Homo sapiens: one gene and its partners. The protein of the gene in region 4 purifies or fractionates together with the protein of the main gene of each other region. This does not show direct contact. Each region holds a gene or a part of one and is shown on either strand. Other genes may lie near its edges. The genes, in order: USP8, MYADM, BMPR2 and CD83.

Region 1 (7,028 bases), on a different chromosome or scaffold from region 4:
GAGTGGTGGTGGTATTGGGAGTGATTTACGGAATTTGTTCAAAGTCATATGATTAATAAATGGAAAGTAAGGCCTGCAACAGTTCCATAATATTAAATTTATTAGTACTGAATGATGAAATATTATATTAAACTTATTTGGAATTCTACATTTATAGCCGTACTAATTTTTTTTTTTTTTTTTTTTTTGAGACGGAGTCTTGCTCTGTCTTCTAGGCTGGAGTGCAGTGGTGAGTTCTCGGCTCACTGAAATGTCCGCCTCCTGGGTTTAAGCAATTCTGCTTCAGCCTCCCGAGTAGCTGGGACTATAGGCACCTGCCACCATGCCCGGCTAATTTTTGTATTTTAGTAGAGATGGGGTTTTGCCATGTTGGCCAGGCTGGTCTTGAACTCCTGACCTCAGGTGATCTGCCCGCCTCAGCCTCCCAAAGTGCTGGGATTATAGCCGTGAGCCACCATACCTGGCCCTTTTTTTTTTTAAACTGAGACAAGGTCTTGCTCTGTCACCCAGGCTGGAGTGCAGTGGCATGACCTTGGCTCACTGTAACCTCTGCTTCCTGGGCTCAAGTGATCCTCCTGCCTCAGCCTCCCAAGTAGCTAGGACTGCAGGCACACGCCAGCACACCTGACTAATACCATACTAATTCAAGTAAAACAGTTCTCATGTATAGTGAATAAGGGTTAACTAAGCCTTGTCTCTTTTGACTAACACATTACAATTTAGTTTTTTGTTTGTTTGTTTTTGAGAGGGAGTCTTGCTCTGTCACCTAGGCTGGATGCAGTGGCATGATCTCGGCTCACTGCACCCTCCGTCTGATGGGTTCAAGCAATTCTCCTGCCTCAGCCTCCCAAGTAGCTGGGATCACAGGCATATGCCGCCACGCCCAGCTAATTTTTTGTGTTTTAGTAGAGATGGGGTTTCACTGTGTTGCCCAGGCTGGTCACGAACTCCTGAGCTCAGGCAATCCACCTGCCTCGGCCTCCCAAAGTGCTGGGATTACAGGCGTTAGCTACCACGCCGGGCCTACAATTTAGTTTTTAATAATGCAGCAGTCTTCCTCTTATCTGCAGGGGATATGTTTCAAGACCTCCAATGAATGCCTGAAACCACAGATAGTACTGAACCCTATATATACTATGTTTTCCCTATATATACATTTTTATGATAAAGTTTAACTTATAAATTAGTAACAAGAGATTAACAACAATAACTAATAATAAAATAGAATAATTACAACAATATAGTGTAATAAAAGTTATGCCCTGTGGCCATAACTTGTGCAACTTGAGGTGTGACAGCAAAACTAGCACAAATTTCTTTTTCCTTCATAATTTTGCAGATAAAAGATCTTACCATAGATCTTAGCAACCTCAGCATGAGGTTTTTGGTTTTTTTTCTTATTAGGTTGAGAACTTTCACCTTTTTGCTTAAAGGAAGCAGTTTACAACTTCTTTTTGACATACGTGAATCTCTGCTTTTACACTTTGAAGCCATGATTAAGTAAAATGAGGGTTACTTGAACACAAGCACTGTAATACTGCTATAGTCAGTCTGGTAACTGAGACGGCCACTTAGTGATTAACAGGCAGGTAGCATCTACAGTGTGGATACACTGGACAAAGGGATGATTCATGTCACAGACTGGGCGAAGTGAGGTGGTGCACAATTTAAAACTTATGAATTGTTTATTTCTGGAATTTTTTATTTAATATTCTTGGACTGTGGTTGACTGCAAGTAGCTGAAACCATGGAAAGCGAAACCATGGATAAGGGGGGACTACTACACTAAATTCTGAAACATACCAATAATGGTGTAAACCCACATGTCTTTTTAATAGAGTAAAATGAAATAATTACACATTATAATACCAATTTCAGAACAAGAGTTATGGGCATAAGCATCCTGGAGGTGTTTTTTTTTTTTTTTTTGGAGGTGTTATTTTAATTTCTCAATTACAGAGTTTTAAAAATGAAAATGATTTTTTAAAATTTTGGTAGGTTGAATGATTTAAGATGCTGATTTCAGCTGGAAACAAATTGTTGCCTTCATATTATTTTGTTGCTCCTAGCAGCATGTTTATATTCATTCTTATATTGATGGTTCCCAGTCTTGACTGGTGTTAGAATTCATTTGGGAAGCTTTTTAAAAATACCTATGTGGGCAAGGCGAGGTTGGCTCATGCCTGTAATCCCAGCACTTTGGGAGACCTAGGCAGGAGGATCACTTGAGCCCAAGAGTTTGAGACTATCCTGGACAACATAGTGAGACTCTGTATTTTTTTAAATATATAAATAAGAAAATAAATACCTGTGTGTATGTCTCATCCATAGAGATTCTGATTTAATTGTTTAGGAGTGGGATCTGAGCATCAATATTTTTTTAAAGTTCTCTAGGTAACTGATTCTAACATACAGCTGGGATTGAGAACTATGTTTTTGGTGCATGTTAAGTACGATCTGGCTCCCTACTTAATGATTTTGCATCTGTTAAAAAATTAATGAGGTAGAAGACAAAAGAAATGGATTAAAGTTATAAATGTAGATAGACATCTATTCTGGAAAACAGTTACCCTTTTGTTAGTTTCTGGGAATGGTCCTTAATAAAACAAACAGACATTGGCCTGGTTTGCTAAGTGCCTATATCACAGCATTAAGCCACACTTTACTTTGTTACCGTTATGTACTTAACTTTCATTTTAAGAGGCAGAAACTTTATTAAGAGTTGTATTTTTTTAGTATCCCCTGTATCACAACACTGCACCTTGTGTATAGTAGGTATCTATTGTTTACCTAATTGAAGCCAGTTTAGACAGTCACTCTTTAGAACTAGGGCTAGTTCAGCTCCTTGGGAGGCTGAGGCAAGAGAATCGCTTGAACCGGGGAGGTGGAGGTTTTGGTGAGCCGAGATTGCGCCACTGCTCTCCAGCCTGGACAGCAGAGTGAGACGTCATCTCAAAAAAATAAAGAACTAGGGCTAGTTTATTCTTTTCTTTTCTTTTTTTCTCATGGCATTCTAAGACTCCCCCAATTAGACAGGGTCTCCCTCTATTGCTCAGGCTGGAGTGCAATGGTGTAATCATGGTTCATTGCAAGCTCAACCTCCCAGGCTCAAGGAAGGCCTCAGCCTTCCGAGAAGCTGGGACCACAGGCGCATGCCACCATGCCCTGCTAATTTTTTATTTTTTTATTTTTTTTTTGTAGTGATAAGGTCTCACTGTGTTGCCCAGCAGTTCACCAAATCCTAGATAACATAATTTTGGTGTCAATACTTAATTATCTTCCAAAACAATAGGGATTATCAAAGTCAACATTGATGCCTTATTAGTTGATAAACAGATTTAATATCTGTCTGCTCTCACATATAACTGATTTCTAGTTAATATTTACATCTTAAGATGTTCCTTTGGCATACACTCAACATTTTCCACATCGAATTACCTACTTTGCTGTAAACCAGTGGTTCTTGTTGGGGGTAATTTTGCCTTCCAGGACACATTCGGCAATGACTGTAGACAGTTTTGGTTGTTACAACTGGAAGGGAAGGATGATAGTAAACTGGCGTCTAGTAGAGGTTAGGGATGCTGCTAAACATCCTGCAGTGCACATTGCACAGAGCAGCCTCTCACAACAAATGTTTATCTGGTCCAAAATGTGAGTGATGGCAAGGTTGAGAAACGCTGCTGTAAACTGATCAGTTTTAAACTGCAGTATTACTTTTTTTGTTAATAGCACTACTGCTCTTCATATTTTGCAGGGTACAGTGTGTGTGCCTCTGTGTGTGTGTGTGTGTGTGTGTGTAAGCAAGAGAAAATACTGTTTCGATCAACCAGTTACCAAAGCATGTTTCTACCATTTTGTGTTCTTTTCTGCAGTGACCTTGTAGTTACTCTTTTCCATAGTATCATTCCCTTGTTCTCATCTCCTTTCAATCTTACTTACATATCCCTAATTTGACCATCTTGAGATAATATTTTTCCCATCAGGAACTGGCTTTTATTGCCTGCTGAATCAAATATAAAGAATTCTGGATGGCTTCCAAAGTCTTCCATAATGTGACTCCATCTCCTACATAATATAATTTAGTTATTCTTGTTAGTCAACATTTTTTTTTCCTTTTAGTTAAATTCAGCTGACAGGGAGAAACATTTATTAAAGTGGTGACTATGTGAGGACTATTGAGATAGGTGCCAGGGATCCAAAGACATGTCAACATTTTCCCTCTATCCGATTGATTATTTCCCAATAACTTCTGTAATATTCCTTATTATTACTATTTTTTCCGAGATGGAGTTTCACTCTTGTTGCCCAGGCTGGAGTGCAGTGGTGCGATCTTGGCTCACTGCAACCTCTGCCCCCTGGGTTCAAGAGATTCTCCTGCCTCAGCCTCCTGAGTAGGTGGAATTACAGGCGTCCACCACCATGCCCAGCTAATTTGGTATTTTTAGTAGAGACGGGGTTTCTCCATATTGGTCAGGCTGGTCTTGAACTTCTGACCTCAGGTGATCTGCCTGCCTCAGCCTCCCAAAGTGCTGGGATTACAGGTGTCAGCCACCATGCCCAGCCAGATGTCCTCCTTTCTTACCCTGTTCTTAGCTAAATTCTGTCCTCAAGGCCAGGTTCTCTCTCTCATCACATCATCATGAGCACTGCGTGTGTATGAGGATTTTAAAGCCTTATAGTAATTGTCTGTTGATCCCATTACTGTATTTAAGGAATGATATAGATCACAAGCATTGTAGGATTCACATGAAGAAACAAATTCCAAGAACTGGGACCATAAAGGATGGAAGAGATGGAACTTAAGTTTGTTTCTTCTTGTAGCTGAGACCTCAGATGTGCACCACTACGCCCAGCTAATTTTTAAATTTTTTGTAAAATTTTTTGTCTTTACTTTGTTGCCCACTTTGTTGGCTACCTACCATTTCTCCCTATCTCTGCCCTTTAGGCAACAACAATACTCAACATAAATATCTGTTCTTGAACTCCTGGGCTCAAGCAGTCCTCCCACCTCAGTCTCCCAGAGTGTTGGGATTACAGCTGTGAGGCACCACGCCCAGTCAGTGCACTGCTTTTTGCATGGAGAAAGTCTTGCTGCTACTTTAAAAAGGTCAGTGTGCTTAATTGATCTACATTCTGTCACAAACTTCTTATTTTATCACAAACTGATAACAAACAGTTCCCCAATCAGCACTGGTCATTGGACCATACTTGGAGTTACATTGCTGTAGTGTGAGACTTTCATACTTTTTTTAAAATTGTCACCTGTATTAAGAAATACATTTTACATTTTCATCCAGTGTTATATCATATACACATGTACATAACTGAAACAATTTTACGAAGCAGTACCTAACCTTACTATGTGTGACATAGTCTGATGTTTGCTATTTTTTTAATGCTGATCATGACCTTCTAATGGATTTTAAAAACACTGCCCTCAAGCATTTAGCACAGTGCTAGAGACATAGTAGTTGCTCAGAAAATACCATACATTTTAGCAGTGATTAAATCTTGAGAGGGTTGAGCCTTCTTAATACTTGAGGATTACTTTAAAATGTTATTTCATTGGCCGGGCACGATGGCTCACGCCTGTAATCCCACCACTTTGGGAGGCCGAGGCGGGCGGATCACCTGAGGTCAGGAGTTCGAGACCAGCCTGGCCAACATGGAGAAACCCTGTCTCTACTAAAATACAAAAATTAGTGGGGCATGGTGGCGGGGCGCCTGTAATCTCAGTTACTTGGGAGGCTGAGGCTGCTTGAATCTGGGAAGTGGAGGTTGCAGTGAGCCAAGTTCATGCCACTGCACTCCAGCTTGGGCGACAGAGTGAGACTCCGTCTCCAAAAAAAAAAAAAGTTATTTAATCAATACTTAGTTGTTTGTGGCACCTTATACAGAACGAGTGTAGAGTGGATTATGAGATTTAAGACAGCGAGAAGATACTTATGTTGAGTATTGTTGCTGCCTAAGGGCAGAAATAGAGAGAGATGGTGGGTGACCAACAAAGACAACTTTTGCTTTCCTTTCAATATTGCCAAAGACCTTAGGAGTGGCTGGTGTGAATCCCTGCTTAAAATCAGGACCAGTTTGAATGACTGCAAACCTCATTTTTCACTTTTTACCTTTTAGTCTTCACTTTGTGGTTCCAGTCATCAAATCCCTACTCTTTGTCTTAGAAAGGAGCAGAAGGATGTCAGAGAAAGAACATTTTCTCTTTATTTATTTATTTTTTTTTGAGATGGAGTCTCTGTTGCCCAGGCTGCAGTGCAGTGGCGCGATCTCAGCTCACTGCAAGCTCCACCTCCCAGGTTCGTGCCATTCTCCTGCCTCAGCCTCCTGAGTAGCTGGGACTACAGGTGCCCGCCACCGTGCCCGGCTAATTTTTTGTCTTTTTAGTAGAGACGGGGTTTCACCGTGTTAGCCAGGATGGTCTTGATCTCCTGACCTCGTGATCCGCCCGCCTTGGCCTCCCAAAGTGTTGGGATTACAGGCGTGAGCCACTGTGCACGGCTGCATTTTCTCTTTGTTAACTCATTTTCAACACTTTTGGGTTTCACTTTTGGAGCACTGCTGTTTGACTAAGGCTGAAGTTCTTTGTCAGGTTTACACATCTTAAGAATTTTTATTTTTTGTTGTTAGAAGCATGTTAATTTTTCTTGCATATACTTAGTTATTTTTTTTTCACTTGCAATCCTTCTTGAAGCATAAGGTTTTTTGTTTTGTTTTGTTTTGTTTTGTTTTGTTTTAAAAGACAGAGTCTTGCTCTGTCGCCCAGACTCCGCTCACTGCAATCTTCACCTCCTGGGTTCAAGCGATTTTTCTGCCTCAGCCTCCTGAATAGCTGGGATTACAGGTGTGCGCCACCACGTCCGGCTAATTTTTGTATTTTTAGTAGAGATGAGGTTTCACCATGTTGGCCAGGCTGGTCTCAAACTCCCGACCTCAAGCAGTCCACCTGCCTCAGCCTCCCGAAGTGCTAGGATTACAGGCCTGAGCCACCACGCCCGGCTGCATTTTCTCTTTGTTAA
Region 2 (6,081 bases), on a different chromosome or scaffold from region 4:
GTCTGGGGCATCTGGGATCCTTCAGGCTAAGGGTCCAGGGCCAGAGGTCTGACCCCTTATAACAGGACGGTGATGGCCAGGCGCAGTGGCTCATGCCTGTAATCCCAGCACTTTGGGAGGCCAAGGCGGGCGGATCACTTGAGGTCAGGAGTTTGAGACCAGCCTGGCCAACATGGCGAAACCCCATCTCTACTGAAAATACAAAAATTAGCCGAGCATGGTGGCACACACCTGTAATCCCAGCTACTCAGGAGGCTGAGGCAGGAGAATCGCTTGAATCCGGGAGGCGGAGGTTGCCGTGAGTCAAGATCGCACCATTGCACTGCAGCCTGGGTGACAGAGCGACTCCATGTAAAAAAAACAACAACCAAAAAACAGGATTGTGAGGCCTAGAGAGAGTTCAGTGGAAGGGCCTGGGGTTCCTACTGGACAGTTGGAAATCTGGGGAGCTGAGTTTCCCAGAAGCTGGGGGACCAGCTGGCTGGGTTTTGGGGAGAGAAGGTGGAGGTAGATGGACTCAGTATGCAGGAGTGTGGAGGGGGAGGCTCAAACTAGCTTTTTTGGGTTGCAGTACTCCAGTCCTAAATCTCAGGTGGGAGTTAGACTGAGAGTGAAGGTTGCTAATCTCCAAGGTGGGGGGTAGGGAGAGGAGGAGGCCGCTAAGAGTTTAGGCTCCTTGTCAGAAGGGAGGGGAGATCTCTTGGTTTTCCACGGCTGGGATCTCTATGAGAAGATATCCTTTATCGGGAGGTCGGAGCTCTTATTAGATGTGGGTCCCTGAGAGTGGAAGCCTGGGGAGGTTGGGCCGTTTAGAGGCTGCAAATGTCTAGGTCACTGTTCGATGGAAGAAGGAAGTTTGCTCACAGGGTCTGGGGTGCAGAGCTCTGAATACTGAAAGAAAAGGAAGTTGAGAGATGGGGTTTTCAGAGCCTGTGGAAGACAAGCGTTTTGTTCTGACACTTGGGTTGTGGCAGGAGGCAGAAGGAGGATGCTTTATTTTTTATTTATTTTATTTATTTTTATTATTTTATTTTATTTTTTGAGATGGAGTTTCACTCATGTCACCCGGGCTGGAGTGCAGTGGCGCAATCTCGGCTCACTGCAACCTCCACCTCTAGGGTTCAAGCGATTCTCCTGCCTCAGCCTCCCAAGTAGCTGCGATTACAAGCGCCCACCACCACACCCAGCTGATTTTTGTATTTTTAGTAGAGACGGGGTTTCACCATGTTGGTCAGGCTGGTCTTGAACTTCTGACCTCAAGTGATCTGCCAGCCTCGGCTTCCGAAAGTGCTGGGATTACAGGCATGAGCCACTGCGCCCAGATTATTTTATTTTTTTTGAGGCGGAGTGTGGCTCTGTGGCTCAGGCTGGAGTGCAGGGGTTCTATCTTGGCTCACTGCAACCTCTGCCTCCTGGGTTCAAGTGATTCTCCTGCCTCAGTCTCCCGAGTAGCTGGGATTGCAGGTGCATGCCACCACGCCCAGATAATTTTTGTATTATTAGTAGAGACCGAGTGTCGCCACGTTGGCCAGGCTGGTCTCCAACTCCTGACCTCAAGTGATCCACCCACCTTGGCCTCCGAAGTGCTGGGATTACAAGTGTGAGCCACCACACCCGGCCTATTTGTAATTAAAAAAAATTTTTTTTTTTTGAGTCAGGGTCTCACTCTGTCTCCCAGGCTGGAGTGCACTGGTGCATCACAGCTCACTGCAGCCCTGACCCCACAGGCTCAAGCAATCCTCCCACCTCAGCATCCCGAGTAGCTGGGACCACACGCACACACCACCACACCCAGCTAATTAAAAAATTTTTTTTTGGTAAATGAGGTCTCCCTAAGGTTGCCCAGGCTGGTCTCCAACTCCTGGGCTCAAGCAATCCTCCTGCCTCAGCCTCTTGGAGTGCTGGGATTACAGGCATCAGCCACACCTGTGCCTGGCCAGAGGGGTGGTGCTATAGAGTACAGAGTGCTAAATGGCTGAGCTACTGAGTCCCTTGGGGAGGGAGGGAAAGAGGGAAGCACGGTATCTGGAGTGGGAAGCAAACAGTGTAGTTGTACAGTAGTTAGGTCTTGAAAGAGAGAAGAATCTCTTGAGAAGGAGGAAAATAGGGGCCTAGACTCCTGGATTCTGATACGAGTAGGGGAGGAGTGAGCCTTGAACCGGAGGGGACAGGCTCATCCCTGTATGCCCAGGACTGTCCCCATTTGAAAACCCAAGGCTGGGCCCGGTGGCTCACGCCTATAATCCCAGCACTTTGGGAGGCCAAGGCCAGCGGATCATGAGGTCAGGAGATCGAGACCATCCTGGCTAACACAGTGAAACCCCGTCTCTACTAAAAATACAAAAAAATTAGCCGGGCGTGGTGGCACATGCCTGTAATCTCAGCTACTCGGGAGGCTGAGGCAGGAGAATCACTTGAACCTGAGTAGCAGAGGTTGTAGTGAGCTGAGATTGTGCCAATGCACTCCAGCCTGGGCCACAGAGCAAGACTCTGTCTCAAAAAAAAAAAAAGAAAAGAAAACCGAAAGCCCCACATCTTGGGAACTCCCTAATTAGAGCTCATATTAATTTGTCCCTGGGGTAGGCAATGGCTAAGGGACCTGGATTCTTATGTTTGTGACTGTATAAGGACACTGTCTTTCCCCTTTTTGCAGCCATGCCAGTGACGGTAACCCGCACCACCATCACAACCACCACGACGTCATCTTCGGGCCTGGGGTCCCCCATGATCGTGGGGTCCCCTCGGGCCCTGACACAGCCCCTGGGTCTCCTTCGCCTGCTGCAGCTGGTGTCTACCTGCGTGGCCTTCTCGCTGGTGGCTAGCGTGGGCGCCTGGACGGGGTCCATGGGCAACTGGTCCATGTTCACCTGGTGCTTCTGCTTCTCCGTGACCCTGATCATCCTCATCGTGGAGCTGTGCGGGCTCCAGGCCCGCTTCCCCCTGTCTTGGCGCAACTTCCCCATCACCTTCGCCTGCTATGCGGCCCTCTTCTGCCTCTCGGCCTCCATCATCTACCCCACCACCTATGTCCAGTTCCTGTCCCACGGCCGTTCGCGGGACCACGCCATCGCCGCCACCTTCTTCTCCTGCATCGCGTGTGTGGCTTACGCCACCGAAGTGGCCTGGACCCGGGCCCGGCCCGGCGAGATCACTGGCTATATGGCCACCGTACCCGGGCTGCTGAAGGTGCTGGAGACCTTCGTTGCCTGCATCATCTTCGCGTTCATCAGCGACCCCAACCTGTACCAGCACCAGCCGGCCCTGGAGTGGTGCGTGGCGGTGTACGCCATCTGCTTCATCCTAGCGGCCATCGCCATCCTGCTGAACCTGGGGGAGTGCACCAACGTGCTACCCATCCCCTTCCCCAGCTTCCTGTCGGGGCTGGCCTTGCTGTCTGTCCTCCTCTATGCCACCGCCCTTGTTCTCTGGCCCCTCTACCAGTTCGATGAGAAGTATGGCGGCCAGCCTCGGCGCTCGAGAGATGTAAGCTGCAGCCGCAGCCATGCCTACTACGTGTGTGCCTGGGACCGCCGACTGGCTGTGGCCATCCTGACGGCCATCAACCTACTGGCGTATGTGGCTGACCTGGTGCACTCTGCCCACCTGGTTTTTGTCAAGGTCTAAGACTCTCCCAAGAGGCTCCCGTTCCCTCTCCAACCTCTTTGTTCTTCTTGCCCGAGTTTTCTTTATGGAGTACTTCTTTCCTCCGCCTTTCCTCTGTTTTCCTCTTCCTGTCTCCCCTCCCTCCCACCTTTTTCTTTCCTTCCCAATTCCTTGCACTCTAACCAGTTCTTGGATGCATCTTCTTCCTTCCCTTTCCTCTTGCTGTTTCCTTCCTGTGTTGTTTTGTTGCCCACATCCTGTTTTCACCCCTGAGCTGTTTCTCTTTTTCTTTTCTTTTTTTTTTTTTTTTTTTTTTAAGACGGATTCTCACTCTGTGGCCCAGGCTGGAGTGCAGTGGTGCGATCTCGACTCACTGCAACCCCCGCCTCCTGGGTTCAAGCGATTCTCCTGCCCCAGCCTCCCAAGTAGCTGGGAGGACAGGTGTGAGCTGCCGCACCCAGCCTGTTTCTCTTTTTCCACTCTTCTTTTTTCTCATCTCTTTTCTGGGTTGCCTGTCGGCTTTCTTATCTGCCTGTTTTGCAAGCACCTTCTCCTGTGTCCTTGGGAGCCCTGAGACTTCTTTCTCTCCTTGCCTCCACCCACCTCCAAAGGTGCTGAGCTCACATCCACACCCCTTGCAGCCGTCCATGCCACAGCCCCCCAAGGGGCCCCATTGCCAAAGCATGCCTGCCCACCCTCGCTGTGCCTTAGTCAGTGTGTACGTGTGTGTGTGTGTGTGTGTGTGTGTGTGTGTTTGGGGGGTGGGGGGTGGGTAGCTGGGGATTGGGCCCTCTTTCTCCCAGTGGAGGAAGGTGTGCAGTGTACTTCCCCTTTAAATTAAAAAACATATATATATATATATTTGGAGGTCAGTAATTTCCAATGGGCGGGAGGCTTTAAGCACCGACCCTGGGTCCCTAGGCCCCGCCTGGCACTCAGCCTTGCCAGAGATTGGCTCCAGAATTTTTGCCAGGCTTACAGAACACCCACTGCCTAGAGGCCATCTTAAAGGAAGCAGGGGCTGGATGCCTTTCATCCCAACTATTCTCTGTGGTATCAAAAAGAAAAAAAAAAAAAAAGAAGGAGTCGGGGCCGGGCGTGGTGGCTCACGCCTGTAATCCCAGCACTTTGGGAGACCAAGTCAGGCAATCATCTGAAGTCAGGAGTTCAAGACCAGCCTGGCCAACATGGTGAAAGCATGTCTCTATTAAAAATACAAAAATTAGCCGGGCGTGGTGGCGGGCGCCTGTAATCCCAGGTATTTGGGGGGACTGAGACAGGAGAATCCCTTCAACCCGGGAGGTGGAGGTTGCAGTAAGTCAAGATGGCACCACTGTGCTCCAGCCTGGGGGACAGAGCGAGACTCCATCTCAAAAAAAAAAAGGAATCGGACGAAGAACCACAGGATGTTGAAGACAACTGTCTGAAGTATTTGTGAGGGACAGCGATGTGGCCCTCTGTGTTAAGAATAACGTGTCCTGCTTTGGCAGAGAGAAGAAAATAGCCACTGCCCGCTTTCAAGGCAAGATCGACCTTTTCTGTTTTGTTTTGTTTTTCTTTCTTTTTCCTGGCCATGAGGACAAAAATTACTGAGTGGCCCTTAAAGAGGGAAGTTTGTTTTCAGCTGTTCTCTTTTGCCCGTAGGTGGGAGGGTGGGGATTGCTGCGTCCTAGCTAGAGGAATGGCTTTGCTTGAATGTGTAGTGCACACGCACGGGTGTTTCTGTGTGCTAGTTGCTTCTTGCTGCTGCTTCCTGCTTGTCTGGGACTCACATACATAACGTGATATATATATATATATATATAAATGTATAAATATATATTTTATTTTTTTTTAAATCCCTGGAGCTTCTGGTTCCTATCAGTTCCTGTTGTTAATCGTAGAACCGTTGTCCCTTCCCCCATTCCCGTATCCATCATGTTCTTTTTCTTTTAAATATCAATATAAAGGTAAAAGAAGGACTTGTGCTTTCTTAATGAGGAGGGCGGCCGAGCACGGCGGGCGGATCACTTGAGGTCAGGAGTTTGAGACCAGCCTGGCCAACATGGTGAAACCCCGTCTCTACAAAAAAATAAAAAAGAAAAGCGGGGGAGGACTCTCGGAGAGGGGCAAGGGCCAGATTCTTGGGTCTAGTGGGAGAATAGGGTTGGTGCCAAGACAACCTTGGCCTCATCAGAAGATACTAGCTGGATCTAGGTCTTCTAAATGACTTCCTCAAACCAGGAGGGCTGGGTGGGATAGAAATGAACTAGACTTCTCCCTCCTTGGAGTCTGTCCCCTGAGCACCTCACAAATACAACGTCCTAATTTGAGTGAAGGAGCTTTCCTCCCCAGTCACCTCGTCCTCCCAGGTCCCCCCATTTCAGTAATAGCCTCTCAGAGCTGAGAACCCAAGCACATGGTGGTACCTTCCCCCCGTCTACTCAAGTCAGTCCCTCATCAAACACTGTCTATTCTTCCCCCTAAATACCATTTCTA
Region 3 (7,028 bases), on a different chromosome or scaffold from region 4:
GCGCAGCTTCTGATCAGTATTACCAAACATTGCATAACTACATCTAGTTAAACAATGAACAGCTCTTTCATAGGGCAACTCATTCTGTTTTAGACAGGTCTGTTTATAAGCCATGCTTTTCTGTATGCTCAACTAAAGGCTCTTATCCTTGAAGATACACTGATTGGAACTGGTTATTTGATGTGAAGACAGCTATCATATCCTCCCAAGTTTTCTTTTTTTTCCTCATCAGATGCTTTCAGTTCTTTCTACCCATCACAGTTCAGAGGTCTCAAACCTTCATAGTTGTACTTGCTCTCTTTTGGATATGCTCTAGTTTGTGGCCATCCATCCTAAAGGGTATTTGCTCTAGATGCGATCTGACCCACAGAATGGAACTTAACACATAAAATGTTTACATGTTTGTGATAGCCCTGTGATTTACCTATGTGTGTTCCCATTCCATTCTGCAAGTGAGTAAACTTGGGCTCAGATAGGAGAAGAAACTTTCCTAAGGTCATATGTTAAGTGGAAGAAGTGAGCTTCAAGTCCTATTCAGATTTAACTGCCTCCAAAGCCATGCTATTTTCATTAATAAAAATACCAATATTGATAAGTGTAACTACCATTTATTGCGTAGATAATATATGCTTTTTTAAAAAAAAACTTTAATTTTTTTTTTTTTTTTAAAGAAACAGAGTCTCACTTCATCACCCAAGCTGGAGTACAGTGATACAATCATGGCTCACTGCAGCCTCAAACTCCTGGGCCCAAGCAATCCTCCTGCCATAGCCCCCTGAGTAGCTGGGACTACAGGTGCATGCCACCATGCCTGACTAATTTTTTTTTTTAATTTGTTTTAATGTCTGGCATTTTGCTATGTTGTCCAGGCTGGCCTTGACCTTGTGGCCTCAAGTGATCCTCCTGCAGCAGCCTCCCAAAGTGTTGGGATTATAGGCATGAGCCACTGTGCCCAGCCAGATAATATATTCTTGACGTTGTGTTAAGTACTTAGACTACCATCTAAATCTTACAGCTAACTTGGGAAATACAGAGTACTATTTTTATAAATGAGGAAATTGAGGATTTAAAACCAAATGTGATTCTAAAACTGTTAGATTCTAAGACTCTTGATATTATACTATCCTGTCTAATCTGTTTCATGGTATTGTTGATGTTTTAATAATTAGGAGCACATCTACTTGGTGTTTTAGTGTTCCAAATCTATACAGAATAGTCTGTATGATTAAAAAATATAATTTGTAATTATCACATTTATTACTAATTTTTTCTTTCATTTCCTTTGATGCAAAAACATTACTAATTTGATTATACATGGGTACAGCCTTTCTAAAGGGCAGTCTGTCAGTATTTAACAAAATACTTTTTTAAAAAAAAATGACATTTCAAAATTTGTTTTCTTTTAGGTCCACCTCATTCATTTAACCGAGATGAGACAATAATCATTGCTTTGGCATCAGTCTCTGTATTAGCTGTTTTGATAGTTGCCTTATGCTTTGGATACAGAATGTTGACAGGTAAAAATTACCATTTTTTGTCCTATTGTTTATTAAACATGCAATTTAATCAATTTATTTGCTCCTTTTAAATTCCGTATGTTAAAAAAAATAGTCTCAAAGTTATGCAAAATACACCCAGCCTCAATAGTATCACGTATGGACAGTATTGTTTCATTTAAATTATCAGTCACTACCCCTTTCCATGCCACTGGATTATTTTGAAGCAAATCACAGATATCATATATCTGTAAATATTTAATTAGATATTATATATCTATAAATATTATCTCTACAATACAAGAGCTTTTTTTAAAATTTATTTTATTTTATTTTATTTTATTTTTGAGACGGAGTCTCGCTGTCGCCCAGGTTGGAGTGCAGTGGCGCGATCTCGGCTCACTGCAGGCTCCGCCCCCCAGGGTTCACGCCATTCTCCTGCCTCAGCCTCCTGAGTAGCTGGGACTACAGGTGCCCACCTCCTCGCCCGGCTAATTTTTTGTATTTTTAGTAGAGACGGGGTTTCACCGTGTTAGCCAGGATGGTCTCGATCTCCTGACCTCGTGATCCGCCCGCCTTGGCCTCCCAAAGTGCTGGGATTACAGGCGTGAGCCACTGCGTCCGGCCAATACAAGAGCTTTAAGAATACATATCCATAATACCATTTTCACATCTGAAAAAATAACAGTAATTCCTCAGTATCATCAAATGTCAAGTTGGTTCTAATATACTTTAGGTTTGATGGACTGTTTAGGAAATCAGCGTTCATTGATTCATTTGAATAACTTCTATACAATCTTCTTTAAAGTTTTTATAATATTGCTTAGGGTTTTAAACTTTTAAAGTAAGTCATCATGGGAGTGTCTCCCAGAATTTGGCTTTCATGCTATTCTGCATTCATCTTAATTTATAGGTATTACCTAGTTTAGTAAATAGCTTTACTCCTATTGACATTAGGCATAAATCTTGCTGCTAATCTTTCTGCAGCTCTTCTTTTTAAGTGTAATATTATAAAAAGTGTAAAAAGATATTCATTTTAAGAAAACCATATATTAGTAACCTGTTTCCTGTTCTTATAGGAGACCGTAAACAAGGTCTTCACAGTATGAACATGATGGAGGCAGCAGCATCCGAACCCTCTCTTGATCTAGATAATCTGAAACTGTTGGAGGTAAGTTTGCCGTTAGATTATGGACTGTTGTTTCTACTGTGATACTAGACCTGGAACAGTGACTTCATTCAATCATTAAGACATTCATTCATTTATTTAACCCTATTTACTAAATTACAATTTTTTGTCAAGGCCTATTCTAGGCACTAGGAACATAGGTGAACAATGTCTCCTGGGGCTTCTATTTGAATTGGGGAGTCTACAGACAGGTACAGGAATGTATAATATAATTGCAAGTAGTAGTAAGTGCTATGAAGAAAAGTACAGTGGATAAGAAAGTGATGAAAAGGGGGTTATTAAAGAAAATATGGGCCAGGCGCAGTGGCTCATGCCTGTAATCCCAGTACTTTGGGAGGTTGAAGCTGGTGGATCACCTGAGATCAGGAGTTCAAGACCAGCCTGACCAACATGAAGAAACCCTGTCTCTGCTAAAAATACAAAATTAGCCAGGCATGGTGGTTCATGCCTGTAATCCCAGCTACTCAGGAGGCTGAGGCAGGAGAATTGCTTGAACCCGGGAGGCAGAGGTTGCGGTGAGCCGAGATCGCACCATTGCACTCTAGCCTGGGCAACAAGAGCGAAACTCTGCCACAAAAAAAAAAAAAAGAAAGAAAGAAAAAGAAAATATGGCCAGGTGCAGTGGCTCACGCCTGTAATCCTATCACTTTGGGAGGCTGAGGCAGGGGGATCACTTGAGGTCAGGAGTTCAAGACCAGCCTGGCCAACATGGTGAAACCCTATCTCTACTAAAATACAAAAATTAACTGGGAGTGGTGGCGCCCGCCTGTAGTCCCAGCTGCTTGGGAGGCTGAGGCTAGCGAATTGCTTGAACCCAGAAGGTGGAGGTTGCAATGAGCCAAGATCACGCCACTGCACTCTAGGTGACAGAGCAGGAATCCGTCTCAAAAAATAAAAAAGAAAAAGAAAATATATTTAGAAAGAGGTTGACCTTTGATTAGAGATTTGTACAGGGTATGAGAATAAAGACATGAAAGTTTGAGAAGAGTGTGCCACAAGGGATCCATAATAGACAACAAATAAATACTCCTTGTCTGCATATATTACATATTTTTATAGATACATAAGGCTCTTTTATATAGAATTTAAGTTTCATTTGGTGATATCTCAGAAGCTACATTAAAAGTGTTACCATGATGAGTGTTTTTATATTTATTAAGAATGACTTGAAAACTATGGTCCCCAAACCAGAGACTATTAAATAATAGATGTGATAGATTTGACTATATAAAAAATTGTAAGAACTTTCTGTTTTGGGAGAGACATACCATAAACAAAGATAAAAGCCAAATTTGAAAAATAAATTTCAACATTTCAACATATAAGGGAAAACTTGATAAAGAACTGATATAAATCAAGATGAAAGAAACATTCTATAGCAAATGGACAAAAAGGCTGAGTGCTGTGACTCACACCTGTAATCCCAGCTCTTTTGGGAGGCCAAAGTGGGTGGATTGCTTGAGCCCAGGAGTTCAAGACAAGTCATGGGCAACATGGTGAAACCCCATTTATTTTGTAAAAAATACAAAAATTAGCTGGGTGTGGTGGCACATGCCTGTAGTCCCAGCTACTCGGGAGGCTGAGGTTGAAGGATCACTTGAGCCCAAGAGGTAGAGGTTGTGGTTAGCCTAGGTGACAGAGACCCTGTCTCAAAAAAAAAAGGACAAAAGGTATTAACTGCCAATTCACAAAAGAAGTAAGTGTGGCTAAGAAATGTACAGTAAGATGTCCAATTTACAAGGCTGAAAGAAATACTAGTTAACCCATGGAATTTTAGCCATGATTAAGTGATAGAAACACTTCCAAACATTGCTGAATTAACTATATATTGATATAACCTTTTTAAAGGACACTTTGTATAATTTTGATCTGGAAACAGTGTATGAAACACAACATATATCCTTAAATAAATGATGGTAAATCCCCAACCTGTTTTAATAAAAAGTAAAAGCAATCCCCAGAAGCCAAAAATAACGAGAATGGGTTACATTTTGCTGGTTCTTTGGGTGTTGAGTAATTTTTTTGTATTCTGGATATTGTGAATATTGTATTGTGGAACACTGAACTCAAAAATTAGCTGGGTATCATGGCACGCGCCTGTAATCCTAGCTACTCAGGAGGCTGAGGCAGGAGAATCACTTGAACCCGGGAAACGGAGGTTGCAGTGAGCTGAGACCGTGCCACTGCACTCCAGCCTGAGTGAAAGAGCAAGACTATCTCAATTAAAAAAAAAAAAAAAGATTTTTTTTTGTTGTTTTAGTAAGCAATAAACTTGGTTGAACACATACCACAAATCTGTTTGGGGCAGAAGCTCAAATCTCAGTTCAGTTATTTTATCTTTTTTTTTTTTTTTTTACTCTGTCATCCAGGCTGGAGTGCAAGGCATGGTCTGGGGTCACCGCAACCTCTGCCTCCCGGTTTCAAGTGATTCTCCAGCCTCAGCCTCTATGTAGGGATCTTTATGCAAGTATTTAAGTCTCCACAAAAGTGACTACAGGCGCATGCCACCACGCCCAGCTAATTTTTGTATTTCTAGTAGAGATGGGGTTTTACTGTGTTGGCCAGGCTGGTCTCAAACTCCTGACCTCGTGATCCACCCGCCTCAGCCTCCCAAAGTGCTGGGATTACAGGCGTGAGCCACCACGCCCGGCCTCAGTTATTTTATCTTTAGCTGGAAACTCTCTTGTATATTCACTGGGCTTTCCTCTCTCTGAATTTCTCCTTTCTAGGGTTCTCCCCTCATTTTCTAGCAACTGTGGCTGTCCAAAATATGTCCTGAGTTTCCCAAGGCCAGAACAATTTTCTGTTCTTCTTTTTTCTTTTTTTTTTTTTTGAGACGGAGTCTCACTCGGTCACCCAGTCTGGAGTGCAGTGGCGCGACCTCGGCTCACTGCAAGCTCTGCCTCCCAGGTTCACGCCATTCTCCTGCCTCAGCCTCCTGAGTAAGTGGGACTACAGGCGCCCACCACCACGCCTGACTTTTTTTTTTTTTTTTTTTTTGTATTTTTTTAGTAGAGATGGGGTTTTACCGTGTTAGCCAGGATGGTCTCGATCTCCTGACCTCATGATCCACCCACCTCAGCCTCCCAAAGGGCTGGGATTACAGGCGTGAGCCACCGCGCCTGGCCTCTTTTTTTTTTTTTTTTTTTTTTTTTTAATTGAGACAGTCTTGCTCTTTCGCCCAGGCTGGAGTGCAGTGGCGCGGTCTCAGCTCACTGCAACCTCCGTTTCCTGGGTTCAAGTGATTCTCCTGCCTCAGCCTCCTGAGTAGCTAGGATTACAGGCGTGTGCCATGATACCCGGCTAATTTTTGTATTTTTAGTAGAGACAGGGTTTCACCACTTTGGCCAGGCTGGTCTCGAACTCCTGACCTCAAGTGATCTGCCCACCTCAGCCTCCCAAAGTGCTGAGATTACAGGCATGAGCCACCACACCCAGCCTAGAATGGTTTTCTTTAGCAATTTTAGTTCCACTGCACAGTGCTGATTTCAGCCTGCCCTCAGGATAAAAGTCATAAAAATGGGTAGCTTGCCCCATACCACTTTTTTCTCAAAGCTTTAATGCCTCTCAAGATCTATCTGCCTTTAGATCTTTCTTTTTTTTAAATTTTGTCCAGCATTTATAAATGTTCTCTATGGGCAGGCTGGGTCTGGTAGGAGCTTCATCAGCCATACTAGAACAGAATTTATTAATTTCTTGATAATGGAATAAACTGTAAGCAACAGAGAGCTGTAGCATTCTGTTTAAATTTGTACTTTATTATTTAGTAAATTTGATTGTTCAATTGTGATATTAATACCTTGCTTTCTTTAAAACACTTGCAGCTGATTGGCCGAGGTCGATATGGAGCAGTATATAAAGGCTCCTTGGATGAGCGTCCAGTTGCTGTAAAAGTGTTTTCCTTTGCAAACCGTCAGAATTTTATCAACGAAAAGAACATTTACAGAGTGCCTTTGATGGAACATGACAACATTGCCCGCTTTATAGTTGGAGATGAGAGAGTCACTGCAGATGGACGCATGGAATATTTGCTTGTGATGGAGTACTATCCCAATGTAAGTTCTTCATAGAAAATAAACTGAGGCCAGGTGTGGTGGCTTATGCCTGTAATCCCAGCACTTTTGGAGGCTAAGGCAGGTGGATCACTTGAGGCCAAGAGTTCAGGACCAGCCTCGCCAACATGGCAAAACTCCCGTCTCTACTAAAAATACAAAAATTAGCCGGGTATGATGGCACACATCTGTAATTCCAGCTACTTGGGAGGCTGAGGCATGAGAATTGCTTGAACCCGGTAGGCGGAGGTTGCAGGGAGCCGAGATTGTACAGCCGTACTCCAGCCTGGG
Region 4 (7,605 bases):
CCCACCCGCCTCGGCCTCCCAAAGTGCTGGGATTACAGGCATAAGCCACCATGCCCGGGCTAAAATATTTTTATTAATGGTCAATAAAAAGATGCAAGAAAGGAAGAGGCAGAGAAAAATCTGGTTAAGCATAAAGCGTAAAACAAAATGACCAAAATAAATCCTAATGTAGCAGAATTCACAAAGTAATAAAATTAAACCCTCAGTTAGCAAGATAGATTGTCAGTCATACTGGATAGAAGAAAATCTAACAATATACTTTAAAAAGGACACAATAGAATGTAAGGAAAAAGAAATGTTGAATGTAAAAGTATTGAAAACGCCAGCAAGAAATTAACCCAGAGAAAAGAAGAGGCAGAGGATGGTAATATTAAGAGTAAACAGGCTGGGCATGATGGTTCACGCCTGTAATCCCAGCACTTTGGGAGGCTGAGGTGGGCGGATCATGAGGTTAGGAGTTCGAGATCAGCCTACCAACATGGTGAAATCCCATCTCTACTAAAAATACAAGAATTAGCCAGGCATGGTGACGGGTGCCTGTAATTCCAGCTACTTGGGAGGCTGAGGCAGAGAATTGCTTAACCTGGGAGGTGGAGGTTGCAGTGAGCCGAGATCCCGCCACTGCACTCCAGCCTGGGCGACAGAGCGAGACTCCGTCTCAAAAAAAAAAAAAAAAAAAAAAAAGTCAAATAAATGAAGAGAAAAAGGAACAATTCATTGGAAAAACATAACTTCCAGACACTAAAACATAGCATCAAATTATACCAAGCCAAAAAAATGATAAAATTTCAGAGATAAACAGACAATTCTGTAGTCATGGGAGAGAATTTAACACATCTCTTTCAATAATTGATAGTTCATGATTACAGAAGGGATATAGAAGATCTGAGCAACACCATGAGCAAAATCAAAAAGATCTTTCTTTCCGAGTACATGCCACTCTTACCAAAAGATCACATATGAGGCTACAAAGCAATCCTTGATATTGCAACAAAGAATCATACAGACTGTTCTTGAGCAACCTCAACTGTTAGACACCAGTAGCAAAATGAAAAGCAAGCCATATATTGGGAAATTTTTTTAAAAAAACCCTCTAAATAATTCATAATTCAACAAGTGACTTAATGGAGAGTCTAAGAACACATTGTTAACATTAATAAGAAAGGAAATTTCTACTCACTGGCTATGGACACCTAGAAAAATAGAGTTTAAAAAATATATATGTGAAAGTAGCAACACAATGTGAAGGTATCCAGGAAGAAATCTATCAAAAGATGTGAAAAACCTATATATATATAATTTTAAAAATTCTTGAAGACCTAAATAAATGGAAAGATACACAATATGGGATGAATTTGTAGAACTGACTTCTAAAGATGTTGATTTTAGGAGATTTATAAATTGAATATATTCCTACTAAAATTCAAATCAAGTTTTTTGAGGTTCACAAATTGATATAATATGTATAAGGTAGAACAAAGAACCAAGAATGCCAGAACATTTTTTTTTTTTTTGGATACACAGTCTTGCTCTGTCACCCAGTCTGGAGTGCAGTGGCACAATCTCGGCTCACTGCAGCGTGGACCTCCTGGGCTTAAGCGATCCTCCTGCCTCAGCCTCCTGAGTAGCTGGGACCACAGGTGCAAGCCACCATGCCCGGCTATTTTCTGTATTTGTTATTTTTTTGCATTTTTAGTAAAGACCAGGTTCACCATGTTGCCCAGGCCAGTCTTGAACTCCTAATCTCAAGTGATCCGTCCACCTGGGCCTTCCAAAGTGCTGGGATTACAGGCGTGAGCCACTGCACCCAGCCACCAGAACGATTTTGAAGACGAAGTTCAACATGTGAGGACTCACTTCCACCACAGCAAGACTTAATTAAATTATAGTAATAAGAAAGTGTGATATTAGCACAAAGAGAGGCAGAATAGAGTCTAGAAACAGGCCCACTCATATGTAGAAATTTGTATAAAGCACAGATGTCATTTTAAATCAGTAGGGAAAGAAGGACTTTTAGCAAGCAGCATTGGAAAAAATGGTTATCCATATGGAAAAAATAAGTTAGATCACGACATCAAACCATATTTAAATGGATTAAAGACCAACATATGAAAAAGCATGACTTTAAAAGTTTTGGAAGGAAATGAAGGAGAATGTTTTTATGATCTCAGGTCAGGAAAAGATTTCTTAAACACAATACCAGAAGCACAAATCATAAACCAAAAGATCAGTAAATTTGACCACATGAAAATATTTTTTAAAAACTCTTTGGTAAATTAAAGATATCATAAACAAAATGGAAAATACAAATCTTAAACTTGGAGAAGAGATTTGGCATGGATATAACCAAGAAAGGATTTGGCCCAGATTTTATAAACAGCGCTCATGGAAAAGGCCAAAGGATATGAATGACAATGCTCAGAAATATCCAATGTTCTTGAAGCATATGTTATCAATGTAACATAAATTAAGCAAAAAGGATCTAATATTTCACACTCATTAGATAGGCAGAAATTTAAAAAGATCTGGCTGGGCACGTGGCTCACACCTGTAATCCCAGTACCTTGGGAGGCCAAGGTAGGAGGATCTCTTGAGCCCAGGAATTTGAGACCAGCCTGAGCAACATAGTGAGACCCTATCTTTAAAGAAAAAAATCTGATCATGCTAAGACCTGCTGAGGGGAGTGTAAATGGGCATGTGCATTTTGGATAATAAGACGGCAATATTTAACAATGCAGTGTAATTACTGAGCTAGAGTGTTGGAAGACTTTCAGCTCCCCTGCAACATTGTTTATAATCAGGAAAAACTGAAAAGAAGCATAAATGGCTAGGTATGAGATCTGGCAGAGGACACATAGTGGGTCTCAAAAGACCATCCTGGCTAACACGGTGAAACCCCGTCTAAAAATACACACACAAAAAAATTAGTCGGGCGTGGTGGCGGGCTCCTGTAGTCCCAGCTACTCGGGAGGCTGAGGCAGGAGAATGGCGTGAACCCGGGAGGCGGAGCTTGCAGTAAGCTCAGATCACGGCCACTGCACTCCAGCCTGGGAGACAGATCGAGACTCCGTCTCAAAAAAAAAAAAAAAAAAAAAAAAAGAGGGTCTCGAAAATGTTAGTACTGTTTTATTTCTCAAGAATAAATTGTATACAGATGTGTTCAATTCCATATTTTCTATACTTATTTTGTATGCTTAACATTTTCACAATTAAAAAATTAATTTGGTGAGGCTGCTGGAGAAAAGGTACTCACACAAGCTGGCGGGACTGTCAATTGATATAACTACTTCCAAGAGCAGATTAGAACTGGTGGTATAGTGATGCCACTCTTTTTAACCTCTTGGATGGACAAAGATAGAAAGGTTGGATAACAGTTTGTGTTGGCAAACAGGCACTCTCTTTGCAGATGGGAATATAGATTGAAGACACCTCCTTGCAGGTAATTTTTTGGCAATATTTGACAAAATTGGAAACTCCCCTTCACCTAGCACAATTTCCTTGAGGTATTTATTCTAAGAAAATAAGCAATTTTAGAGCAAAGATTTATCTACACTGAAGTTTCCCATAGCAATCACAGTATTGTTTCTAATATTAGTAATACAAAAAGAAACAACCTGTATGTCTAACACTAATCGATTCTAATTTATGGTGCAACTGAACAATGGACCAAAATGATGCTGTTGGAAGTTTTTAATGATGTGGAACCGCTTGCAAATTATTAAGCTAAAAGAAAGTAGGTTACAAGATAGCAGGAAGAATAAACCATTAAAAATACCAATCTGTGCACTGACAAATGTTATAAATATTTTACGTTATGTTATGTTATAAACATTTTATAATATAAAAAAATGTTAACTGAAGTTACTTCCTGGATGAATTACAGGTGATTTCATTGTCTTCTAGAATTTTCTTTTCCAAAAATGTTGTGTATGCGTGTAATTATTATTTTAATAGGAGACACTCTCCTTTGGTGATATAATTTAAACAGGACGGTACTGACTGATAACCTCCCGGGGAAGGCAGGGAGCCAAGTACTACAGACTTGTATGTTTCCATGGAAATCTAACGCGCCTTTGATTATCACAGATTCTGGAGAAGAGTGAGGACTTGGGTTCACCAGTGCGTTCCCAAGGACAGGCTGGGCTTCTGAGGAAGTTGCCCACCCTCTCGGAATCTGGTTTGGCCTCCGTAAAATGGGCAGATCCCGCTCGGATGGCCCGGTTCCCGGCTTCCTTTTGCGGGTCAACGGCAGCGTCACGCGCGCGAGCGCGGTCTGCAAAGCCCCCAGCGCTGGGCGTCACGCGGGGATTGCTGTCGCCGCTGCCAGCCGCAGCAGCGACGCGAACTCGGGGCGCCCGGCCCGGGCGCGCGGGGGCGGGGACGCGCACGCGGCGAGGGCGGCGGGTGCGACGGGGGCGGGGACGGGGGCGGGGACGGGGGCGAAGGGGGCGGGGACGGGGGCGCCCCGGCCTAAGCGGGACTAGGAGGGCGCGCCACCCGCTTCCGCTGCCCGCCGGGGAATCCCCCGGGCTGGCGCGCAGGGAAGTTCCCGAACGCGCGGGCATAAAAGGGCAGCCGGCGCCCGCGCGCCACAGCTCTGCAGCTCGTGGCAGCGGCGCAGCGCTCCAGCCATGTCGCGCGGCCTCCAGCTTCTGCTCCTGAGCTGCGGTAGGGCTCGCGAGCGCCTGTCTCGCCTGTCGCCCCCCGCCCCTCCACGACACCCCCTCCCGTCGGTCGCTTGCTCACGACGCGCTCTCTCTTTCTTGTAGCCTACAGCCTGGCTCCCGCGACGCCGGAGGTGAAGGTGGCTTGCTCCGAAGATGTGGACTTGCCCTGCACCGCCCCCTGGGATCCGCAGGTTCCCTACACGGTCTCCTGGGTCAAGGTAGGTGCTGCGATACCCACGGGCTGGGGTTTGGTGGGCTCATTTGAAGACAGCAGGAACCATCTCCCCTAGGCTGGCGACCCTCTGTGGCTGCCAGGTGGGGGCGAGGGGCGTCTCCCGCAGCTGAACTTGGAGTACCCAGCCTCCCGTCGCGCCTCCCCCACCCCATCCGCATCCAGGTACAGGGCCGAATTAGGTTTTGCTCTCCGCAGACCTCAATCCCCTTCCTGTCACTGAAGGTGGCCTGAGATGAATGATCCACTTAAGATGTTTTGGAAGGGCAGAGACTCTCATTTGGATTAATTCTGGAGGCCACCTGTGGTTGTGGGCCAGCAGGTCAGGAAGAAAGCAACAGGGACCTAGATTTGGGCATTGGACAGGGGGAATGTCTCCAGACTTCTGATTTCTTGTGTTTTGTGACTGTGATGCCCATGATACATGGGAGGGGGAGGGGGCAATTTGAAAGGAAAGGCTAAGACACAGAAGTGACTTAGGCCATTTCATCCATGGTAGTTATCAGTGGTCATCTCCTTTGTGGGATACCCTTGGCTTCCTCCCCTAGCCCTCCTCCTCCTTCCTCTGGCAGCCTTGAGAGCATCAGGTGGATGCATGAGCCGGAGCCCGCATGTGTAAGAACAGGCCTTGCTGCTCCTACTGTAAGTGGACTGAGTGACAAGGAGGCTTTTTCAAGGTTTCCTCTTGACTGAAACATTCTCAGATTCTAAGATGGCAATGATGGTGTCATTCCAAAGCCAAGCAGCTACTGTTTGATATCACTGGTCCTTCTTTAAGTCAGGCCACTGCTACCACAGCACCTCCATTTTAACCCAAATGAATATGATATTACAACCTTACTCTGTAGCTCTCACTGATTTGCTGTCTTACCACGGGGGCAAATCTCTGCACTTGTAGCTTTCCCCAAAATGCAGGGCGTTCTTCTGCCCACCATAAAAGATACTATAAGAAACTGTACGTCTTTGGCCACTTAACAGTACAAGGCATCATTGCGGTGATCTCTTTGTGTGTGTGTCTCCTAACTGGATGGTCAGTTCCCTGGGGGGCAGTGGCTGTATCCATACTTCTGTGTATTCTTCACGGCACCTAATTTTTGCCCTATAAATTGCAAAGGTGCTCTGTGAATTCAGCCCAGCACTTCATGAGTTATGCATGACGGGGATGGTGCTGCTGCCTCAGAGCATTGTATTGTGTATAAAAGTAAGGTGTTAAATATTCCTACTTCATTGGTACCTTACTTACTGTGGGATCAGAGAACACAACAATTCCGAAATTGTTCTCATAGTCAAAACAATAGTATTTTTAAAAATATTGTAAAAACAATTTTTGAATGCTCACCACGTGCCAAGCTCCAAGGTAAATATTTACATACATTATCCATTTCCATCCATCGGAAGAATGGACTTAGGGATTAGTACTGTTACTATTCCTACTTTACAGGTGAGGAAACTGAGCCTTAGGGAGGGAAATAACTTGTCCACTTTTGCACAGCTAGCTAAATGGTGGAGTTGGGATTTGAACGAAGCAGTCTGATTCCAAATCCTGAGTTGTTAGAGGTCTATCTTGATCTCTGTTTTCTCCCTTAATAACTTAAGATAAAGAAAATCAAAGTGCCCCTGGGCTAACCAGGCAGGGACTTAGTTATCTCAAAGAACGGGGAAAAACATGAAACCACTATCCCTTCCAGAGAGTAACTATTTAATAAAGAAAACATTATTAATACCCCCAGGGGAGTAATTAAAAAGTACTCATGAAACAAGTAGATGAAATTTCAGGCTGTGAAGTTCAAACAGTTCTGGAGTGAAAGCTTCTTGCACAGGGTCATTTGGAATGGTCCACTAAACCATAGCAATTAACCTTGGACTTCTCCTTGGATGTCAGCTGGTGACGTAACTCGGTAACGCATGAGCTTGTTTATTGGACAGAATTCTTGCGAGATTTACCCCCAAGGTCTTTGAAAGCTCTGTCAAGAAAAAAAGGGACAGCAGTCTCTAGGCGTTCTTTTTTTCCTGTTGATCCATGGAATAGTGCCAATGAAAAGTCATACCGTAGTTATTTTTTGAGAAGTAAATGGTGATTGAGATTCGTGGGTAGGAGAGTTATGCTATACCAATAAACGAATCAGGTGCCTCGAAAGTGACATATATTGTTCCTTTAAGCATTTTTTTTAAAACAGCTCTCAGCATGTTCTGTAGATACTTATTATTTTCCAGCCCAATAATTATACTTTTTCATTGATTATGCTTATACAACAAAAATGGATAGAGTGTTCTGGAGACAAGGCCAGTGGTGAAATGCCAAAATACTTCATTTTACAGAATGTTAAGCATCTGGTCATTTTTCTATAAGTTTCTTGTAAAATGTTTCATCAAAGTGGAGGGGTAGCCACAAAGGGAGGAATTTCATTTTGGTAACCAGAACCAGCTTATCCCATCCTACTCACTTCATCATCACTACCCTGGCTTTGTAAAACCTGTTTTGCCAGCTTAGGAGGGGGCTTCATACTGGGCAAGGAAAGCAGAGTCCCTTGCAGTGGGTTTTCACCATCCACCAGATTGAAGCACATTCTGCAGGCTGTCTGCATATCATAAGTATGGTTATAATGACTCACAATTTAAAATTCTATTCACCACTCAATCCTCCGGCACCATGTAGCATCTTGCCTTTGTCCATTTGGCACTGATACTTGTAATTAACAAAAGGAC

Evidence for each region.
Region 1: the proteins of CD83 (region 4) and USP8 purify together in Homo sapiens (affinity purification with mass spectrometry; 2 studies listed by BioGRID and IntAct, with this or other methods). This does not show direct contact.
Region 2: the proteins of CD83 (region 4) and MYADM purify together in Homo sapiens (affinity purification with mass spectrometry; 2 studies listed by BioGRID and IntAct, with this or other methods). This does not show direct contact.
Region 3: the proteins of CD83 (region 4) and BMPR2 purify together in Homo sapiens (affinity purification with mass spectrometry; 2 studies listed by BioGRID and IntAct, with this or other methods). This does not show direct contact.

Annotation. Positions count from the first base shown.
Region 1 is NC_000015.10:50,427,393-50,434,420, forward strand, and holds part of USP8 (ubiquitin carboxyl-terminal hydrolase 8), read left to right. Parts: intron 1-7,028. UniProt on the Homo sapiens protein: Hydrolase that can remove conjugated ubiquitin from proteins and therefore plays an important regulatory role at the level of protein turnover by preventing degradation. Converts both 'Lys-48' an 'Lys-63'-linked ubiquitin chains.
Region 2 is NC_000019.10:53,870,875-53,876,955, forward strand, and holds the end of MYADM (myeloid-associated differentiation marker), read left to right. Parts: intron 1-2,653; 5' UTR 2,654-2,655; coding exon 2,656-3,624; 3' UTR 3,625-5,561; downstream 5,562-6,081.
Region 3 is NC_000002.12:202,512,313-202,519,340, forward strand, and holds part of BMPR2 (bone morphogenetic protein receptor type-2 precursor), read left to right. Parts: intron 1-1,406; coding exon 1,407-1,517; intron 1,518-2,575; coding exon 2,576-2,667; intron 2,668-6,509; coding exon 6,510-6,740; intron 6,741-7,028. UniProt on the Homo sapiens protein: On ligand binding, forms a receptor complex consisting of two type II and two type I transmembrane serine/threonine kinases.
Region 4 is NC_000006.12:14,113,181-14,120,785, forward strand, and holds the start of CD83 (CD83 antigen isoform a precursor), read left to right. Parts: upstream 1-4,591; 5' UTR 4,592-4,631; coding exon 4,632-4,668; intron 4,669-4,769; coding exon 4,770-4,885; intron 4,886-7,605. UniProt on the Homo sapiens protein: Transmembrane glycoprotein predominantly found on the surface of many immune cells including dendritic cells or lymphocytes that plays various roles in immune response regulation.